Regions from separate parts of the Homo sapiens genome. Here region 2 is linked to region 1. Evidence: fine-mapped expression QTL. Tissue or cell type: gastroesophageal junction. Region 1 holds a variant in brackets; the other region holds the start of a gene. All regions are shown on one strand. Distances are from middle to middle.

Region 1 (9,919 bases):
GAACATTTGCTCTCCCAGCTTAAAATAGCAAATGTGAACACTTTTCCTCAGGACTTTCATTTTCTTTGTCTCAAGTCAAAATAATTGTCTTCATGATTGACTGACTCCCCAAAGAGGGTTCAACATTTATTACATGTCATACTGAACAGCATGCTTTGCAGATTAAAATAGAACAAGACTCTGGTCACAGAAATTACATCAACAGGAGGAAAATGAAAATAAGATAACTAACTGTACATGTCCCCAACAGCCCTCTCCACTAGATTATTTCAACAGCCACACGATTTCTGCAGCTATAGTCTCCAGCTCCATATGGTAATCCAGCAACTTCTGGACTCAAATGATTTCCACTCAGCTATAACCATGTTGCTCTCCTGCTCAAAGCCTTCCACAGCTCTCATCACCTACGAAGTTGAATAAGTTATTTCGCCTGACATTCAAGGCCCTGTAAGGTGACATGAACTTACTTTCCAAGACTTTCTCTATTTCTCCCCAGGACACAGAGCCCCCTTCCTTACCACTGCCTGGATCCTCCTCCCCCACATCTCCACCTGCCAACATTCTGCTCCTTTATCAAAGATTATCTCAAATGCCATGAAACTTTTTCCATTCCCCTCTATTTGGGAGCTCAAAGCATCTTGTGTTTCTCTTCTGACACTTATCATACGGTGCCTTATGTGACAGCATCTCCACTCTTAATTGGGCTATCACATTACAGTGTAAACATTCAAATATGAGATATGTTGAAAGAACACCATCACCAAAGAGGAGGCTCACAGAAAGACATTCTACCTGCAAGGGAAGGGACATAAGTCAGTGCAATCATTTTGGAAAGATACATTAGTTTCCAGGTCAAAAAATAATGAATGAGCTGTAGAAAATGGAATGGCAATTCCTCAAAAAATTAAATATAGAATTGCCATACGATACAGTGATTCCACTTCTGGGTATAAACTCAAAAGAAATGGAAGGAGGGATTTGAACACATATATCTGTATGTGCACGTTAATGGCTTTTTTTTTTTTTTTTTTTTTTTTTTTGAGACAGAATCTCGCTCCATCTCCCAGGCTAGAGTGCAGTGGCGCGATCTTGGCTCACTGCAACCTCTAACTCCTGGGTTCAAGCAATTCTTACGCCTCAGCCTCCTGAGTAGCTGGGATTACAGGCACATGCCACCACGCCCAGCTAATTTTTGTATTTTTAGTAGAGATGGAGTTTCACCACGTTGGCCAGGCTACTCTTGAACTCCTGACCTCAACTGATCCACCCACCTCGACCTCCCAAAGTGCTGGGATTACAGGTGTGAGCCACCACGCCCGGCCCATATCATCTTTATTCACAACAGCCAAAACGTAGAAGCAACAAATAGATGGATAAACAAAACATGGGATATACATACAATGGATTATTACGCAGCCTTTAAAAAGAAGGAAATTCTGACGCATGCTACAACATGAAGCACGAAGAGATTATGCTAAGTGAAATTAGCCAGTCACAAAAGGATGACTACTGTATGATGCTCCTTACATGAGATATCCAGAACAGGGAAATTCAGACAGACAGAAAGTAGAAGAGTTACCAGGGGCAGGGGAGAGAGAGAAGAAAGATGGAAAATGTTCTGGAGCGCCAGGCGCGGTGGCTCACATCTGTAATCCCAGCACTTTGGGAGGTCGAGGTGGGTGGATCACCTGAAGTTGGGAGTTCAAGATCAGCCTGATCAACATGGAGAAACCCCATCTCTACTAAAAATACAAAAAGTTAGCCAGGCGTGGTGGCTCATGCCTGTAATCCCAGCTACTCAGGAGGCTGAGGCAGGAGAATCGCTTGAACCAGGGAGGCAGAGGTTGCGGTGAGCCAAGATCGTGCCATTGCACTCCAGCCAGCCTGGGCAACAAGAGCGAAACTCCGTTTCAAAAAAAAAGAAAAGAAAAAGAAAACGTTCTGCAGATAGATGATGGTGATGGTGGCACAATAATGTGAGTGCACTGAATACCACTGTGCTGCATGCTTGAAAATGATCAAAACAGTAAATGTGGCCGGACGCGGTGGCTCACGCCTATAATCTCAGCACTTTGGGAGGCCGAGGCAGGCGGATCACCTGAGGTCAGGAGTTCGAGACCAGCCTAGTCAACATGGAAAAACCCTGTCTCTACTAAAATTACAAAAATTAGCCGGGCATGGTGGCACGCACCTATAATCCCAGCTACTTGGGAGGCTGAGGCAGGAAAACTGCTTGAACCCAGGAGGCGGAGGTTGCAGTGAGCTGAGATCGTGCCACTGCATTCCAGCCTGGGCGACAGAGAGAGACTCCATCTCAAAAAAACAAACAAACAAACCCATCAAATTTTATGCATATTTTACCACCACAGCCAAAAAAAAAAAAAACTAATTATCAGAATCAAAATCACCTGGTATGTGTTAAAAGGTTTCTAAAGGAACCTATGCTGCTTCCCAGGAATGGTATCAAGAAAGGTAGCATCCCATTTCGAATGCCAAGAAAATTACATACTAAAGAGCAGAGCACTTGCTTATCTCCCCAAGTTTTCTATGGGTGTTCTGATCACGAGGAACCTTAAACAGAAAAGGAAGCCCCCCCAACATAAAGATCTAGGACAAAACGACACCTGAACCAACCATAGAGAGCTTTATCTTACCAATCCCAACGCCTGCATGCTTCACTTTCTTGACTTGCCCTGTTAAGCCCTTTCTAAAAATTCAAGGGCTCTTTCCAGCGGTATACTGCTTTTGTATCAACTCATGGGGACCTGCTGTTAAATTTTCAGGAATTTTTACCAGCCAGTTATTATATAAAGATATGGATTAAAATAAATTATATCAATATTTATTAAGCATAAATTTTACAGAAGTAATGAATACTCAAAAATCATCACTTCCCAATTATTTTACATTTTACTTTTATCTATCTGTGATTGTGAGGTTATTTTGCCTGCTGCATCTGGATGGTAACAATACTACATAGGAATGTGCTACCACACACTTTTTCCTAACTCTGTGTGCAATGATGTCATGTTGGTAGCCTGCAACTGGCCATGGTGGAAATATTTACACCACGGAAACTGGCAAACTCTATGAATTAGAGTTTTGTTTTTGTTTTTCAAGAGAGCTGGTTGTGAAACTGGTTCTTCCCTGTTCAAAGTATCTTGTCAATAAAATTATGTATTTTAAAATACACTTGAAGTATTTGCCAAAAACATCAGAATGAATTTATTTTAATCCACAAAAGAGAGTAGACACGGTACTAGAAACAATCTTTTTAAAAACAAGTCCCTCACAAATTCTTAGAGCATAGGATCACTGAGAAAATGTAAAGGCTGTGGAGTTGGCCACTGCTATACACCATCACCAAAGGCGGAAGCAGGATGGACATTAGGAATCCAGGCAATCGCATTTTGGTATTTTTTTCCCTTCAAATATTTTTTAATGTAGAGTCGTACTTCCTTAAGAAGCAACAACAGGTGAATCACACTCCACATACTGTTTCATAAAGCACCTTTACATGTTAATATAGTATGAACAATTTTCCAAAAATCAAATAACCTCCTACATCCTTATTAGCACAGAACTTTAAAATGACACATTAAAATGACACATTAAAAGGCAGCCGGGCGTGGTGGCTCATGCCTGTAATCCCAGCACTTTGGGAGGCAGGTGGATCACCTGAAGTCACGAGTTCGAAAGCAGCCTGGCCAACACGGTGAAACCCCATCTCTACTAAAAATACAAAAATTAGCCGGGTGGGGTGGCAGGCGCCTACAATCCCAGCTTCTTGGGAGGCTGAGGCAGGAGAATCGCTTGAACCCAGAAGGCAGAGGTTGCAGTGAGCCGAGATCTCACCACCACTCTCCGGCCTGGGCAACAAGAGTGAAAACTCCATCTCAAAAAAAAACAAACAAAAAACAATGCTTGCTGGCTTTTTGAGTCTGACACTGCTCTCCCTTCTCAAGTATTTTAAAAGTTAAAATCTAACTGGGAAGGTGGAACTGAAGGAGAAACCATGTGGATGTCATTTTTAATACCTATGACCTGGCCTGGATTAACAAGGAAAGTGAGGGTGAAGAAAGGGCCTGGGGGAACAACCGCCATGCCCACCATATGTCAAGCCTCAGAGAGCCAGGGCGCTAAGGGGACTGGCTGTGAGAGAGACACACAAGCCTCCTAAAAGCCAAAAACCGAAGGAGGATCATTCTCAAGGTAAAAGAAATAACAATTGTTTGGAGGACAGTGGAGGCAGCGAGTATGAGCAGGTTTCACAACACTCCCCACCCCTGCCTTCCAGTCCTCAGCATACCCCACACCAGTTTTTGCGGCAAACAGCTCGGCCTCATTCAAAGATGAGCGACCACTGAATAAGAACACAGGCAAAGGCAGCTAATAAGGTGCGTTTGTAAAAATAATCAACAGAAGCTGCTGCATAACAAAAATGCAGTGCCCGCTGTTCAGAAATTATTAACAATTTCAAGACAATGACGGGAGCATTCGTCCAAGCGTGGACCCTTAAGTGGATGCAGAGGTCCCATGCCCAGGAATCTGGGCCTGAAAAACGAAGGTAACAGACTAAGAGCTCAGAAAAAATAGTCCTCCATTGTCTCAAAAATATTAAAGATAAAATGGTCCTTCTAAAAATGGGGAGCTCAGAGACTAGATATGAAGTTCCAAAGAACTGACAGTCATCAATCTAAGAGATTTTAAATGGACTGATAGAGTTGAAGAAATAAATGGACTAGAAAAAAAAATATCCAGAATGGAAGCCACACAACTACAGTAAAACATAGTGTAAGCTTCTGTAAACAGAGGCAGAGAACAAACAAGGAAATCACTCAAAATTACTAAAAAGGAACAACAAGAGGGACAAAGATACACAAATGATAATAAGAATAGATGCTAGATTTAGAAGGCAAAGAAGATAAAACCTAACAACTATGGTTCCCAAAAAGTGAGCACCATTCAAAATATATGCAAAAATATTAAAGGATCTTAAAATTTTACTGATATAAAGACAGACTTGAATCAACAGATATTATGGTATAGGACATACCAGGAAAGTGACATAAAACAGCCAATGCCCAAGCAATGCTGGTAAAACTCTAAACTTCAAAAAGAATCAGAGAACCTCATGGGCACATCCAATGGAAAAAGCTAGTCATGTGCAAAAGAAAGAAACATTAACCCAGCCTCAGCTTTCTCTTCCAGAAATATCCAGTGCTAAAAAAGAATGGGAGCAATGTCTAAGAAATTCTGAGGGCAAGAACGTGTGGCCCAAGACCTTGGTACTCGGCCAAATTGTCCTTCAAATATAAAAGCAAGGAACAGCTATCCTTAAGTGTTAAGACCTCAAGGAACACAGTACCTACCAGGGCTTCTCTAAATAAAATAATGTGGCTGGATGCGGCCACACTGGGTTTACCCCTGTAATCCCAGCACTTTGGAAGGCCAAGGCAGGTAGATCACTAAAGCCCGGGAGTTTGAGACCA[G/A]CCTGGGCAATATGGCGAGACTCAGTCTCTACAAAAAATACAAAAATCAGCCAGGTGTGGGGGCGTGTGCCTGTAAGTCCCAGCTACTCAGGAGGCTGAGATAGGAGGATCACTTGAGTCCAGGAGGGTGAGGCAGCAGTGAGCCATGATGGCACCACTGCACTCCAGCCTGGGCGACAGGGCAAGATCCTGTCTCAAAAAATAAAATCGATTAAATAAATAAAACAATGAACCAACCAATGAGTCAAAATTTAAAACTCAAGCAAGGTAAAAAAAAACAGTAAAAAGACTAACAAGTTCTGAATCCATCCTAAAAGGGGACTAAGTCAAAGAGCTATGGGAATTGTGGCATTATTAGAATAGAAATGTTACAATCCTTCACACTGTAAAATTCATAATTAACTGATAAAATTTTGGAGCTTGGGAAAGAGGGGGAGCATAGGTCAGTTCTATTTTTTTTTTAGCTTTCAAAGGAGAGAGTCTCACAAACTCATAGTTTATAAGAAATTATTCTAATCTCTTAGTATTTATTATTTATCATCTTGTCATAAATTTAGTTTCTAAAAGATAGCGCTAATCTCTCTTGCAATGAAGTCAGCATTTCTATCTTGCTTTAGTTTCTTTTCCTTTGCTTTAATTCAAGTCTATTTTATTTTACATCTTTAAGTATTAAATACCATGTGTGATAAGACCCCATGACCATGGCAAGTTCTAGACAGGGCTCAAAAAATGTTACCAACATCATTGGCCAGGCACAGTGGCTCATGTCTATAATCCCAGCACTTTGGGAGGCCAAGGCAGGAGGATCGCTTGAGCCTAGGAGTTTGAGGTTACACTGAACTGTGATTGCGCCACACACCCCTGGGCAACAGTGAGACTCTCTCTCTCTCTCTCTCAAATAAATAAATAAATAAATAAATAAATAAATAAATAAATAAATAATATTATTTCTAAATGGTAAGATTTAGGGTGAGGTTTTTCATTTCTTCTTTTTACTTTTTTGTATTTTTTTTATAATGAGAATGTATCACTTCTTCCCAAACAAGTCACTTTTTAATAATAAAGAACAATCTTTTCATTACTACCTAAGAAACTGACTTTATTGGTTTTGCTCTTCTCCATCGCTGCCAGCCAGGCAAAAATCTAAACTTAAGTCTATTCACTTATTATTCTTCCTCTTATACCCCACTTTGCAGGGGATAAAACTGAAATCCAGGGCAGTTAGGTCATTTGCTGTCGGTCACAGCGCCAGGATGTAACCTCAGACAGCCAAGCTACGTTAACATGTGAGCTGACAGAATTACTGAAGTTCATTTGGTTCATCCCAATTTTTTCCTTCACTTAGTAGGCATGTGTGGACCTAAACCAGCAGGGAGAAGTGCTATCTGCAATGAAACGGCCATACTCATGCATGTCTGGTGGATGTACATACAATACAACTCTTTCAGAAAGCAACAAGAGCAAAATTCTGTCTTAAAAAAAAAAAGACTTAAAAATGCTTAAACTCTGTAATTCTGTTTGTAGGAATCAACCCTAAGAAAACAAATGTAAACACAGGGAAAGGTATATAAATGAGGAAACACATAATCTAACAACAGAGTATTAGGACAATAAGGCATCATAGACTCATACAATTGATCATTATGCAGGCATTAAAATGCACATTATGGAGAAATACTAAGGAACAGGGGAAAATACTTATCAAGTGAAGACAGCCCACTACCATTCCTCATTCAACACAGCAGACTGCACTCAGGCATTCACCCCTATTCCCTCCCAAAATCCCACTAAAATGATAAACATTACTTTACAAAGGCAGATTCCCACAAAAGGAGCCAGAAGAAAGAGACACCAGAGAAAACAAGAACATCAATAATATTTTAGAAGAAATAAAGTGAGCTGAAAAATCTCAACTAACTTGGAAGAAGGCTGAAACTGAAGGCTGTGGAGGGAGATGACAAGCAGCAGCATGCCAATTTCAAGACAAATCCCAGGAACTGCAAGAATCAAGTATCACTGGAAACAGATATGGCTCCACACAAGAAGACTGGCTGAGAATCTGAAAATTTTCTGATACGGTTTGGATGTCTGTCCCCTCCAAATCTCATGTTGAAATGTGGTTAGTGTTGGAGGTAGGGCCTGGTGGGAGGTGACTGGATCATGGGGGTGGATGCCTCATGAGTGGTTTAGCACCATTTCCTGGGTGCTCACCCAGGGATCTTGTTCTGGTTGTTTAGAAGTACGTGGCCCCTCCCCACTCTCACTCCCACTCTTGCCATGTGACACAGCCTGCTCCCCCTTTGCCTTCCACTGTGATCAACTGGAAGTTTACTGGGGCCATCACCAGAAGCAGATACCAACGCCATGCTGCTTGTACAGCCTACAGAATTACAAGTCAATTAATCCTCTCTTCTTTATAAATTACCTAGCCTCAGGCATTCCTTTATAGCAATGCAAAACTAACACAATCTCCCACCCCATGCAGCCTTTCCCTAGCCTTTCCCTAGCCTGGCTACCCTTTCCCTAGCCCGGCAGAAGCAGGAGATATCTCTTCTGTGGAGGCTGAATCTAGGAGGGCCTAAGCTCAAAGGGCCCGGGAACAACCAAAGGTGGGAATCAGATGCTTTACTAAAAATGAGGAATTAAGTCAAAAGTTTTTTGTTTTGTTTTGTTTTGTTTTTTTGAGATGGAGTCTTGCTCAGTCACCCAGGCTGGAGTGCAGTGGCTTGATCTCGGCTCACTGTAAGCTCTGCCTCCCGGGTTCACGCCATTCTCCTGCCTCAGCCTTCCGAGTAGCTGGGGCTACAGGCACCCGCCACCACGCCCAGCTAATTTTTTTTTCTATTTTTAGTAGAGATGGGGTAGACCAGGATGGTCTCGATCTCCTGACCTCGTGATCCACCTGCCTCAGCCTCCCAAAGTGCTGGGATTATAGGTGTGAGCCACCATGCCAGGCCAAGTCAAAGTTTATACCCCAAATTATAAGGCCTTCCCTTCCCAGCCCACTTCTACAGCTCTTATCACAGAATTCTGGCAGCAAAGATCACACCCCACAGCGGAATGTGAGATAAGTCTTCTCTGTAGAAACTCGAGAACCCAGCAGAAAAGACCTATGGACACTGATATGGTTTGGCTATGTCCCCACCCAAATCTTGAATGGTAGCTCCCAAAATTCTCTTGTGTTGTGGGAGAGACCCAGTTACCAGAGATAACTGAATCATGGGGGCAGTTTCCCCCATACTGTTCTTGTGGTAGTGAATAAATCCCATGAGATCTGATGGTTTTATAAGGGCAAACCCCTTTCACTTGGTTCTCATTCTGTTCTCGTCTGCTGCCATGCGAGACATGCCTTTCACCTTCTACCATGGATTGTGAGACCTCCCTAGCCACATGGAAATGTAAGTCCATTAAGCCTTTTTCTTTTGTAAATTACCCAGTCTCAGGTGTGTCTTTATCAGCAGCGTGAAAACGGACTAATATGGACACCAACATCTGGGGGTCTCCAAGAAAAAAGATGGGTTCCAACTGAATCACACAAAGGACAGTCCAGTGTACAAGCCCAACAATACCGATGGATTCCAGCCAGCTTTTAGGCACCTCACTCTGAAGTATAAACAGCTGGAGATAACCAAGTATTTTAGAAAAGCTTCCAACATGAAAGATGGGATGATAACAGTTGAAGAAAAATCTAGAATTACTATCCTAAGAGAAAACTGACAAATGATGAATTGTTCTTTACACTGTAAGCTTATTCATCACATTTCCAACAGCTGAGGATGCCTTGGTGTCTAGGAAGAGAGACCCACACAACTTCTCCCTCATCCCACAGCAGCCAGTGTTTTGGGGGCACTACAAGTGAGCTGAATCTCATCTTCCATTCTAGTAAGTAAAGAGATAGAACCTAAATTAGAAAAAGAAATTGCATGTAACACTTTATGACATGCACTGGCTAAATAAGAACTAGAATCCATTTACATTATATAAATGAATTATTTCACAACTTGAAGATAAACTCAAGAAAAAAAAGGGTTAAAAATATTTGAAGGCGGGGTGCAGTGGCTCACGCCTGTAATACCAACATTTTAGGAGGCCAAGGTGGGTGGATCACCTGAGGTCAGGAGTTCCACACCAGCCTGGCCAACATGGTGAAACCCTGTCGCTACTAAAAACACAGAAGTTAGCTGGGTGTGGTGGCACACACCTGTAATCCCAGCTACTCAGGAGGCTGAGGCAGGAGAATTGCTTGAACCCGGGAGGCAGAGGTTGCAGTGAGCCGGGATCATGTAACTGCACTCCAGCCTGGGCGACAGAGCGAGACTCTTTCTCAAAAAAAAAAAAAAAAAAAAAAAATTAAAAATGATTATCTTAGGTACCAGGAATTGGCGTGTGGAGGGGCCAGGCAGGGGACAGCCAATTTCCATTACAAT
Region 2 (9,919 bases), 39 kb after region 1:
GAAGATGTGTCTCAGGAAGAAGGAAAATGTATCCCAGAAGCAAGCTTCAAAGTACAAAAAGGAATGGTGAGCACATTAAATTTACAGACAAGTACCATATAAAACAATTAGAATGTCAAATTTGGCGCAGGTTAAGAAATGAGAAGGCTATATAAAAGAACAGATCCCAAAATGCTAAGGTAGGAGTCAGTAACAGGTGGCAGGATTTCAAGTTTGTTTTATTTTCTTCTTCATGCTTTTATTGTCTTGTGTTTTCTTGAAACGGAGTTTCACTTTTGTTGCCCAGGCTGGAGTACAATGGCGTAATCTCAGCTCACCACAACCTCCGCCTCCCGGGTTCCAGCGATTCTCCTGCCTCAGCCTCCCGAGTAGCTGGGATTACAGTCACGCGCCACCACGCCTGGCTAATTTTGTATTTTTAGTAGAGACGGGGTTTCTCCATGTTGGTCAGGCTGGTCTTGAACTCCTGACCTCAGATGATTCGCCCGCCTTGGCCTCCCTAAGTGCTGGGGTTACAGGCGTGAGCCACCGCACCTTATTGTCTTTTTTTTTGAAAAGGAACCTCTGTCTTTTTACAATCTGACTTAGCTTTAAGGATTCAATTGCTAAATTAGAATGAAATGAAAACAAAATCAAATATCAAACTGCCAGAACTGCAATCTATCAATTCTAATAACAAGTTTCCTTTAAAAACCCTAAAGACTAATTTGAAGGGATGGTAAAAACTGGATTTATTATTCATTCAACAAGGATTTACCAGACTGGGCAACATAGCGGTGAGACTCTCTAAGAAAAATTTTTTTAAAGAAAAAATTAGCTGGGCGTGATGGCATGTGTCTGTAGTCACAGCTACTCGGGAGACTGAGATGAAAGGATTGCTTGAGCCCAAGAGGTCAAGGCTGCAATGAGCCATGATCACCACTGCACTCCAGCCTCGAGTTTTTTTCAAAAAGAAAACAGAACACAATAATTTACCAAGGGTTTGCTATATTCAGATACTATACTAGATCCTGAATGAACAAGAACAAAAACTGAAAGTCATCATAATACTGGATTTTTAAGTCTTCTAATTGATAATAAATTTATGCAAAGCATTTCGTCAAAAGTCTGCACATAAAGTGAAGTTACTCTTGTGGTCAGAGGTTATTATCATAATTGAGAGTTAAAGGCAGTCTAGTGTGGCCTGAGGCTCTTCTTTTTTTTAATGTGTGAACAAATATGACAGTTTTACATATGAAATTCATTCAGTGTAAATGATGAATTCCCACATTAATTGCAAGTCTTGAAGTTCATAATTTCCATCCCACATTAAACTAAGAAAACTTAAAATCTGAGTTAACAGTTTGCAGGCAGCACTGAGCATGCCTCAGTTTCAGTCTCGCCGGATTAGTATCAAAAGCTTCGAGCATGATATTTTAGTAATGTATCCATTATCCACTTTTGCTCAAAGTATCCACTTGGCCAAACATTTTTAACTAATTCAAACCAGGGCAAGGGCATCCTATAAAAAGTTTTGCCAGTTTTAAATACACGTTTTCTGGGGGCTTCTTGATTGAAAACAAAGGCTGCATTTGGCAGAACAGGACTGGAGAAATCAGTATTTCAAGTAATTTGAATGAAAACCGTTTGGCTCTGATCTTCCTGGCCATGTGGAAGTGGTTAAGGAGGTAACAGCCTACCTAAGTTGCCATGGGTGAAACAGAGAGAAAGGACTGTGACCCAGTACCACCACAGAATAAACTCTGACACTAAAAGACAAGAAAAGAAGTTGATCCGCTGCTTCCCATTCAATAGCCAGGCTTGGAGAGGCTCCTTTCAATCAAAAGCACCAAACAACAGGAGAGAGACTGCCACGAGAGCCTAAAACCCCACAGCCTCCCTTCCCAGGCAAACGGTAACCAATACAGGGAATGCCTGTCCTTCCAAAGTAGAAAGACTTTAGCACCTGCATTACAGGACTATACCTGCCCCTCTTATCTGTAGCACCTTCAGCTGGTGAGGAAAGTGCATTTCTCAAAAACACTAAGCAGTTATCTGCAATAAGCAAGGCCAGTTACAAAGGGCTTCTTTAAAATGTCCAGTCCACCATGCTATCAAAACATCAGGCAAGGCCAGGCTCTGTGACTCACGCCTGTAATCCCAGCACTTTGAGAGGCCGAAGCGGGCAAATCACCTGAGGTCAGGAGTTCAAGACCAGCCTGACCAACATGGAGAAACCCCGTCTCTACTAAAAACAGAAAATTAGTTGGGCATGGCGGCAAATGCCTGTAATCCCAGCTACTGGGGAGGCTGAGGCAGGAGAATCGCTTGAACCTGGGAGGCAGAGGTTTCAGTGAGCCGAGATTGCGCCATTGCACTCCAGCCTGGGAAACAAGAGCAAAACTCCATCTCAAAAAAAAAAATCAGGCAAGTACAGTACTTACAAATCCACAGAATTTCTCTTATCCTCTGGGAAAATCACAATGCCATTTTTCCTAAGCATATTCTGCCTGCAGAAACCAGCCTTTTATCCTTTCTCTAGTATTCTCTAATCCCGTCCAGGATGAAAAGAGTTGTTTTTTTCTGATGTTTATCACAAGCATCCTCCTCATAAATATATACAATTTTCCAAATGAATTAAGCTCTTAGGTGTTCAATAAATTAAATGAGTATAAGCTTCACTGTTTAAAAAAAACTAACCCTTTCAATGCTATCTTATTTGTATCTTTAACCAAAAAACAAAACAAAACAATTTCCTTGGGCAGTTCCTTTTTTCTCTTTTTTTTTTTTTTTTTTGAGACAGAGTCTCACTCTGTTGCCCAGGCTGGAGTGCAGTGGCCCAATCTCAACTCACTACAACCTCCGCCTCCTGGGTTCAGGCGATTCTCCTGGCTTAGCCTCTGAGCAGCTGGGATTACAGGCACCTGCTACCACCCCTGGCTAATTTTTGTATTTTTAGTAGAGACAGGGTTTCACCATATTAGCCAGGCTGGGAAATCCTGATCTCAAGTGATCCGCCTCGGTCTCCCAAAGTGCTGGGATTACAGGTGTGAGCCACCATGCCCAGCCCCCTTGGACAGTTTCTTTAACGAAAAGTGAAACAAAAACGTTCCTCCAGGTTCCTTGTAAACTCTGGATAATTCTGAGGTGAATGCAATAACCCAGTAAGAAACTTGTCCAGGATAATTATTTTAAGATCTTCTTTGATAAGTCTGGCTACAGAGTAAAGTTAACATTCTATTATGAAGCAAGGAATAAATCCATCCCTGTATCAATTAAAGGAAGAGAATATCAATGTGAAAGGGGGCATTAGAAACCACGCTTCAAAAGGATTCCCACAGTGACAGAACTTCTCAATGAAACACCACACCCCAAGTAACGGGGGCGGGGTGGTGCACCATAGAATCTGCCCCTAGGAGGCACAGCCACCTCCACACCGAGGGTTTCCAGTTTCCCATTCACATAAAAGAAACAAGTAAGAGATTCTGGGAGGCGCTGGGCTAGGAAGGCATCTACTCACTGTCTCCACCAACAATTCCCTCAGTAAAGCAGCCATTGCCCAATAATGCTTCTATTTATTTTACCCAGAAGCAGATCTATTAGCCAGACATTCTAAAAACACAAACGCTTCGTTGTGCTTGGAGTAACTCCAATATTGATGCCTTGCTGCAGAACGATGCTGCAGGAATATAAAGTGAGCCATGTGCTAGCTGTACCCACTTATGAAGCACACTGTCAGAAACTGTCACATCCTGGAGACCAACCCATCCGAAAGACTGAGAATAAACCCCCTACGAGAACACTGTGGAAGGAGGGAGAAAGCCAAAGATAGGATGAAGCAGGGCCCTCCTAAAGTCTCCGGAACAACGAAGCCAATTTTTAAGGCAACTCTCCCTAAAGCTTTCAGGACCAGAAAGATGTTTCTTTCTCCTCTCCTTGTTCAGACTGAATAAGAAAAGCAAGACAATGCTGGAGGATGTTCTGAAATGGGCTCCGCAAGTCACCACGTGCAAAGCACATTAAACAGAAGCCAGTGCTAGGCCAGGGTTTGGCTCTGAAGATGTTGCCTACTGGAAGGAGAGGGGCCCCCGGGGGTTTCCACGCAGAGACCAGGGCTGGGCGGTCAAACCTGGTAAACTGACAAGGAGAAGAGCCTTAACAACAATATAATGAAACGGCCAGAGGCCACCGGTACTCCCCAGGGCTGGGAGAGACAGGGAGGCCGAGGCTGCTAAACTGTTCCAGATGACAAGCAGGCTCTCCCACGTCTCCACGAACTGATCAGATACCAGGGCCTCGCTTCTTTGTGAGCCTCAGCTCCCTCCTTTCTGGGGAACCCTACTCGATCCCCAACAGCCGCTGGCCTCCAGCTGCCACAAACGAGATCCAGACTCATTACAGGGAATTCGTATTTCCCCCCCTCAAATAAAACACACACACACACACACACACACAGAGTCTCCGGGGTCCAGCCGGATCACACAGCTAAAGTTTCCGGAACTTGAATCGTAAAACCACAATCAGAAGTTGTTTGGAAATACTCGCCGCAAAGCAATCTGTCCTTTGCTTTAAAAAATAAAAAATAAAAAAAACTTTGCCCTGCATAAAGGCAGACAGTAAAGAGAGACACAAATCTAACTTGGGCAGAGGGTGTGTTCCTCTTTGTCACCCGCCGGGAACCCTCGCGCCGCGCGTGGGCGAGCGGCGGGCACCCGGCGGCATCCGCGCCAGCGGCCACCTCCCCGGCCCGCAACCGGCCTCAGGGGCCGAGATTGCGGCCCGAGGTCCGGAAGCGGCGTCCAGCGCTGTCAGCGGGCGGGTAGGACGGAAGGAAACGGGGGAAGGGCGCCGGGGTCGGGGGAGGCGAGCGGGGACCGGCGCGGAGCCCCGCAGCCCGACGTCGGCGGAGGTGAGGGGAGAGGGGCGCAGGGGGCAGCCCGGAGCCCCGAGGCCCCCGAGCTCCTGCGATGGTGGCCGGGGCTGCCCGGGCCCGACCCGCCGCCCGACTGCGCAGGGCAGGACCTCGGGGACCACGCGCCCACCTTCGCCCGCAGCCGCGGCCGTGCGCTGCGGGAGCCTGGACTCGCACAAGTTGCCGCCCGCGGCCCGGACCCCGCCGGCCCCCGCCCTCCCGCCGCGGTCATTGTTCACCGCGCGCCTCCTACCTCCACAGCGCCGGCGGCTGCGGCGGCTCCCTCTCCCGGCTCGGGCTCCGGGATCGGCGGCTCCCAAGCCCCCGGCGGCCGAGGGCGCGGCGGCGCCGGCTATTAATACCCGCGGGCGGCGGCGGCGCGGGCGCGCGAGCAGGGCTGGCGGTGGCCGGCTGAGGTCCGAGCCATCAAAGGTGGCGCGGGGCGGAGGGGAGGGCGGAGCAGGCGGGGTGGGTGGGGAGCGGGCTCCGGGTCGCCATGGCCGCCTCGACGCCGGGGCCAGCGCTACTCGCGCAGGGAGGAGCGGCGCAAAGCGGGCAGCGGCCGCGTCCCCGCCCCGCGCCCCAGCCGAGCGCCCGCACCGCTGCGCCCGCGCCGGACCCGCCGCCTCTGAGGCCGGCGAGCGGGAAGTGCAGTGGCCACCGCCCCTCCCCGGGTCTGGGCCGGCCCCTCGGCGGGGGGAGGCGGGCGCCGCGCAGCCCGAGCAGCGGGGACGCGGGAGAGCCACAGCCCCCTCCAGCGTCCGGGCCCGCGCCCTGCGCCCGCCCCGCCCCGCTCCGCTCCGCCCGGGCAGGTGCGCCCAGGGGCCTCCCGAGCCCAGCGCGCCGCCGGGGATCTGCGCCTCTCTTGGGCTTCCGGCCAGGGCCGGGCTCCGCGCGGCGCTACCTAATGCAGCGCGGGGAGCGCCACTGGCGAGACGCGAATCCAGCAGCTGTGGCGAAAAACGAACCGGGGAGAGCGGGAGACGTGTGCACGGCGAAGCCGGGAGCGGCAGGCGGGCGGTCAGGGGCTCGGACTCTGCAGGTCGCTTTTTGAGGTCCTGCCTGGGGCTGCTTCGCCTGCGACGTCGCGCGGGGAGGACAGTCTTCAGGGACCCACCGAGCCCTCCCCTCCCCCGGAGCCACAGGCACGGGCTTCCGGCACCACCCCGGGCTGCGCGGGACTTAAGCTTGGGGGAGCGGCGGCCACCCCGCGCCCGCCCACGTCCTGGCCCAGCGCCCTCCGCCCGAGCGAATCCCATGACAGTTCCCGCCCGCCCAGCCTCGGGGGACAGTGCCCTTGGGGAATGGCGTGGGGGAGGTTAGGAGTGGCTTGCGGTGCTTGAGAGCCTTCGGGGTTTCGGGAACTCTACGGAGCGGGGAGCAAGATTCAGGACCCAGGAGGCAGCGATCTAGGGGCACAGTCACCGTCCCCACCCAGCAGCTGCCGCGTTACCTTCTCTTCCCCCTTCTGAGCCTCCAGTCCCTCTCTCTAAGCGTGGCGGGAAGAGGCCTAGGGCGCAGCAAGTGACGTTCTGCCAGACCCGGGGCTAGCGGATTCCGGCCTTCGGAGGCCACTGGCTCAGAACCGTGGGCCTTTTGCGTCTTACAGGAGTTCCCTGACCTCAGACCGAGAGGGCAGATTTCACGGGAGAGGCCTCAAGTGAACTCACAGCTGGACAGGAGCTGGGCAGAAGTGGAGTGTAGGGACCCTGATAGAAGGGCGGGTTGAGACAAGAACAGGGGTCTTGGAAGTAGGGGGTGCTTGTGGGCAGCTCCTGGGGAGGAGCAGAGATGTAATACTTGCAGATTTGGTGGTCTGTGGTTGAAGAGAAGAAATGGTGGGTTTGAGGCTTTGCTCTGTCAGCCCAACCAGCTGTGTGTCACAGATCAGATTTTTTTCTGCTCGTGATTCTCTAAGTGTGGTTCTCAGACCACGACCACCACCAGCAGCCCCTGGAAACGTCAAGAAATGAACATTCTTGGGCCGCATCCCCGACCTACCTAATGAAACCTTAGCAAGCATCTGAATCGCCTGCAGGGATAAAGGACTGTCAGGCTCCATCCCCAGAGCTGCCGATTCAGTAGGTTTGGGGTGGGGCCTGAGAGTTTGCATTTCTAACAAATTCCCAGATAGTGATGTTGCTCTGGTCCTGGGATCACACTTGGAGGATCACAGTGTTAGGACAGTGGGTCTCAAACTCATGGAATCATCTGCGATTAAAAAACAACACCCTGGTTGCACCCCAGCCAAATATATAAAGATTCTAACCCAGGCATCAGTAAAGTTCCGCAGGTGATTCCAGTGTGTAGCCAGGTTTGAGAACAGTTGCTGTAGGCGGCTTTTTAAACTCTAGTGTATACCTGAATCACCAGGGAATCTTGTTGGAATGCAGATTCTGATTCAGTAAGTCTGAGACTGTTTCTAACAAGCTCTCAGGTGTTACTTGCTGGTCCAAGGACTACACGTAGTAGCAAAGTGCTATGTCATACCTCCCAACTAAAAGGAAAAAATTAGGCCGGGCGCGGTGGCTCACTCCTGTAATCCCAATACTTTGGGAGGCTGAGGCAGGTGGATCACCTGAGGTCAGGAACTTGTAAACCAGCCTGGCCAGCATGGGGAAACCTCGTCTCTACTGAAAATACAAAAATTAGCTGGGCGTGGTGGTGCGCGCCTGCAATCCCAGCTACTCGGGAGGCTGAGGCATGAGAATTGCTTGAACCCGGGAGGCAGAGGTTGCAGTGAGCCGAGATCGTGCCATTGCACTCCAGCCTGGGCAACAAAGTGAGACTCCATCTCAAAAAAAAAATCATAAAAATAATAAAAGCAAAAAATCATAGAAAGCGCAGAAAATTAGAAAAGTGACATTTTCCCAGTCACTCTCTTTGCAAGACCGACATTTTCTACATGTTACAGCATTTCTTTCATAGTCTTTGTATGTCTAGAATTAGATTTAGTTGTGATCTTAAAACTATTTATGATCATAACACATAATATATTGATCATATTAATCAATATGATAATACATAATATCCCATGTTGCCTTATCTCAACATTATCAACATTTGTGAAGGTGACTTTTAAAGGAGCCGTTCTGAGGTTTGCAGGCTGAGGGCAGGAGCCCATGGGGAGAGAGTTAATGGGGGAAAAGAGAGGGGAGAAGGGGCAGTTCTGGGAATCTAGTTAGAGAGGCTGTAAAGCGGTGGGGTCACACTAGAGAACTTCCTACGTTTCCTCCCAGCTCTCACCAACATTCCGCGGTTGGTACCTAACCTGATAGAAAGTACTGTTTCTTTTAAGAGAGGGTCTTGGCTGGGCGCTGTGGCTCAAGCCTGTAATCCCAGCACTTTGGGAGGCCAAGGCAGGCAGATCACGAGGTCAGGAGATCAAGACCATCCTGGCTAACACGGTGAAACCCCGTCTCTACTAAAAATACAAAAAATTAGCCAGGCATGGTGGCCGGCGCCTGTAGTCCTATCTACTTGGGAGGCTGAGGCAGGAGAATGGCGTGAACCCGGGAGGCAGAGCGTGCAGTGAGCCGAGACCACACCACTGCATTCCAACCCGGGCGACAGAGCGAGACTCCGTCTCAAGAAAGAAAAAAAAAGGAGTCTCGCTCTGTTGCCCAGGCTGGAGTGCAGTGGCACAAACATAGCTCACTGCAGCCTCGAACTCCTAGGCTCAAGTGATCCCCCTGCCTTGGCCTTCCAAAGTTCTGGGATTACAGGCATAAGGCCATCGTGCCTGGCCAGAAAGCACTTTTTAAATTCCTCTCCCTGAAAAGCCAGGGGTACCTGGCCTCGAAAATCCTGAACCTGGAAAATCAACTTCTGAAAAACTTAGGCGTTTCCTTGTCATTGTGTGTCATTTATGCTTAACTTTCAGAATATAAAAATGTATAATCCCCCTAGATCCCCCTTTTATCCCAAGCTGTGGCATGGGTTATTTAGAAATCTTTCTGGATTAAGGAATCACCCTGTGCTTAACAATTCCTCTTATTAATTTTAACTGTTTTACTGTAAAACGTGTGTACATGTCAAGATAAAATTAAGCAGTATAGAAGAGTATGAAGTGAAACCTAGAAGGAACCCTTCCTGCATCCCTAATCTCGCTTCTTAGAAATAATTTTCCCAACAGTTTTTACAGTCTTTCAGGAATTTTCTGCTCATATACAAAAGTGTGTGGGGGCAAGCAAATCTTTCATATTAAGAGATCACACGTCACAGTGAAACACAACTTTTTATTCCATAGTTCCCTCCCCTTCAACACATCACCTTTCGGAGAACCTGGGTTTAGGGTGATGATGCTCTCTGGACGTGACAGTATGCACTGACAGTAACTGAGGCAGCCTGTATTAAAACCCAAGGCGGAAAGAGATCTGCTTGTAGCATTTGTGGTGGGCTCATTCTGTGTAATCCCCCTGCCTTGAGTGTGACCTAGTGACTCGCTGCTAATGGATAGAATACAGAAAAGGAAGGCAGTGTCACTTCTGTGATTAGGTCACAGAGCACTGTAACTTTTTTTTTTTTTAGACGGAGTCTCACTCTGTCGTCCAGGCTGGAGTGCAGTGGTGCAATCTCGGCTCACTGCAACCTCTGCCTCCTGGATTTAAGCAATTCTCTGCCTCAGCCTCCTGAGTAGCTGGGATTACAGGCGCGTGCCACCACACCCGGCTAATTTTTGTATTTTTAGTAGAGACGGGGTTTCACCATCTTGGCCAGGCTGGTCTTGAACTCCTGACCTCGTGATCCACCCGCCTCAGCCTCCCAAAGTGCTGGGATTACAGGCGTGAGCCACCGCGCCAGGCCCATAACTTCTTACTGATACGGTCTTGCCCTCTCATTTGCTCACTTTGATGAAGCCAGCTGCCATGTTGTAAGATGTCCTATGGAGGACCCACAGTGGCAAGGAACAGAGGGAAGCCTTACTCCAACAGCCCTGGAGGCACTGAATTCTGCCAACAACCATGTGATACACAAGTCCTTTCCAGCTGAGACTTGAAGTGATGTCAGTGTCATGAGGAACCCAAA

The links.
Region 2: it holds the start of FARP1, and the variant in region 1 is fine-mapped to the expression of FARP1 in gastroesophageal junction (GTEx, PIP 0.90).

What each region holds. Positions count from the first base shown.
Region 1 is chr13:98,178,113-98,188,031 of GRCh38, reverse strand. The region is part of intron 1 of FARP1 (FERM, ARH/RhoGEF and pleckstrin domain protein 1); the gene reads right to left. Among named protein-coding and RNA genes, the nearest start is that of RNF113B, 5.8 kb to the right of the region's middle. The variant G/A (reference allele first, on the strand shown) is at 5,493.
Region 2 is chr13:98,138,718-98,148,636 of GRCh38, reverse strand. It overlaps FARP1 (FERM, ARH/RhoGEF and pleckstrin domain protein 1), which reads right to left and starts at 5,543. Exons shown (of 27, transcript NM_005766.4): 1 at 5,145-5,543. It overlaps LOC105370328 (a long non-coding RNA gene), which reads left to right and starts at 4,727. Exons shown (of 3, transcript XR_931670.4): 1 at 4,727-4,798. RefSeq lists silencers at 5,493-5,802, 6,043-6,092.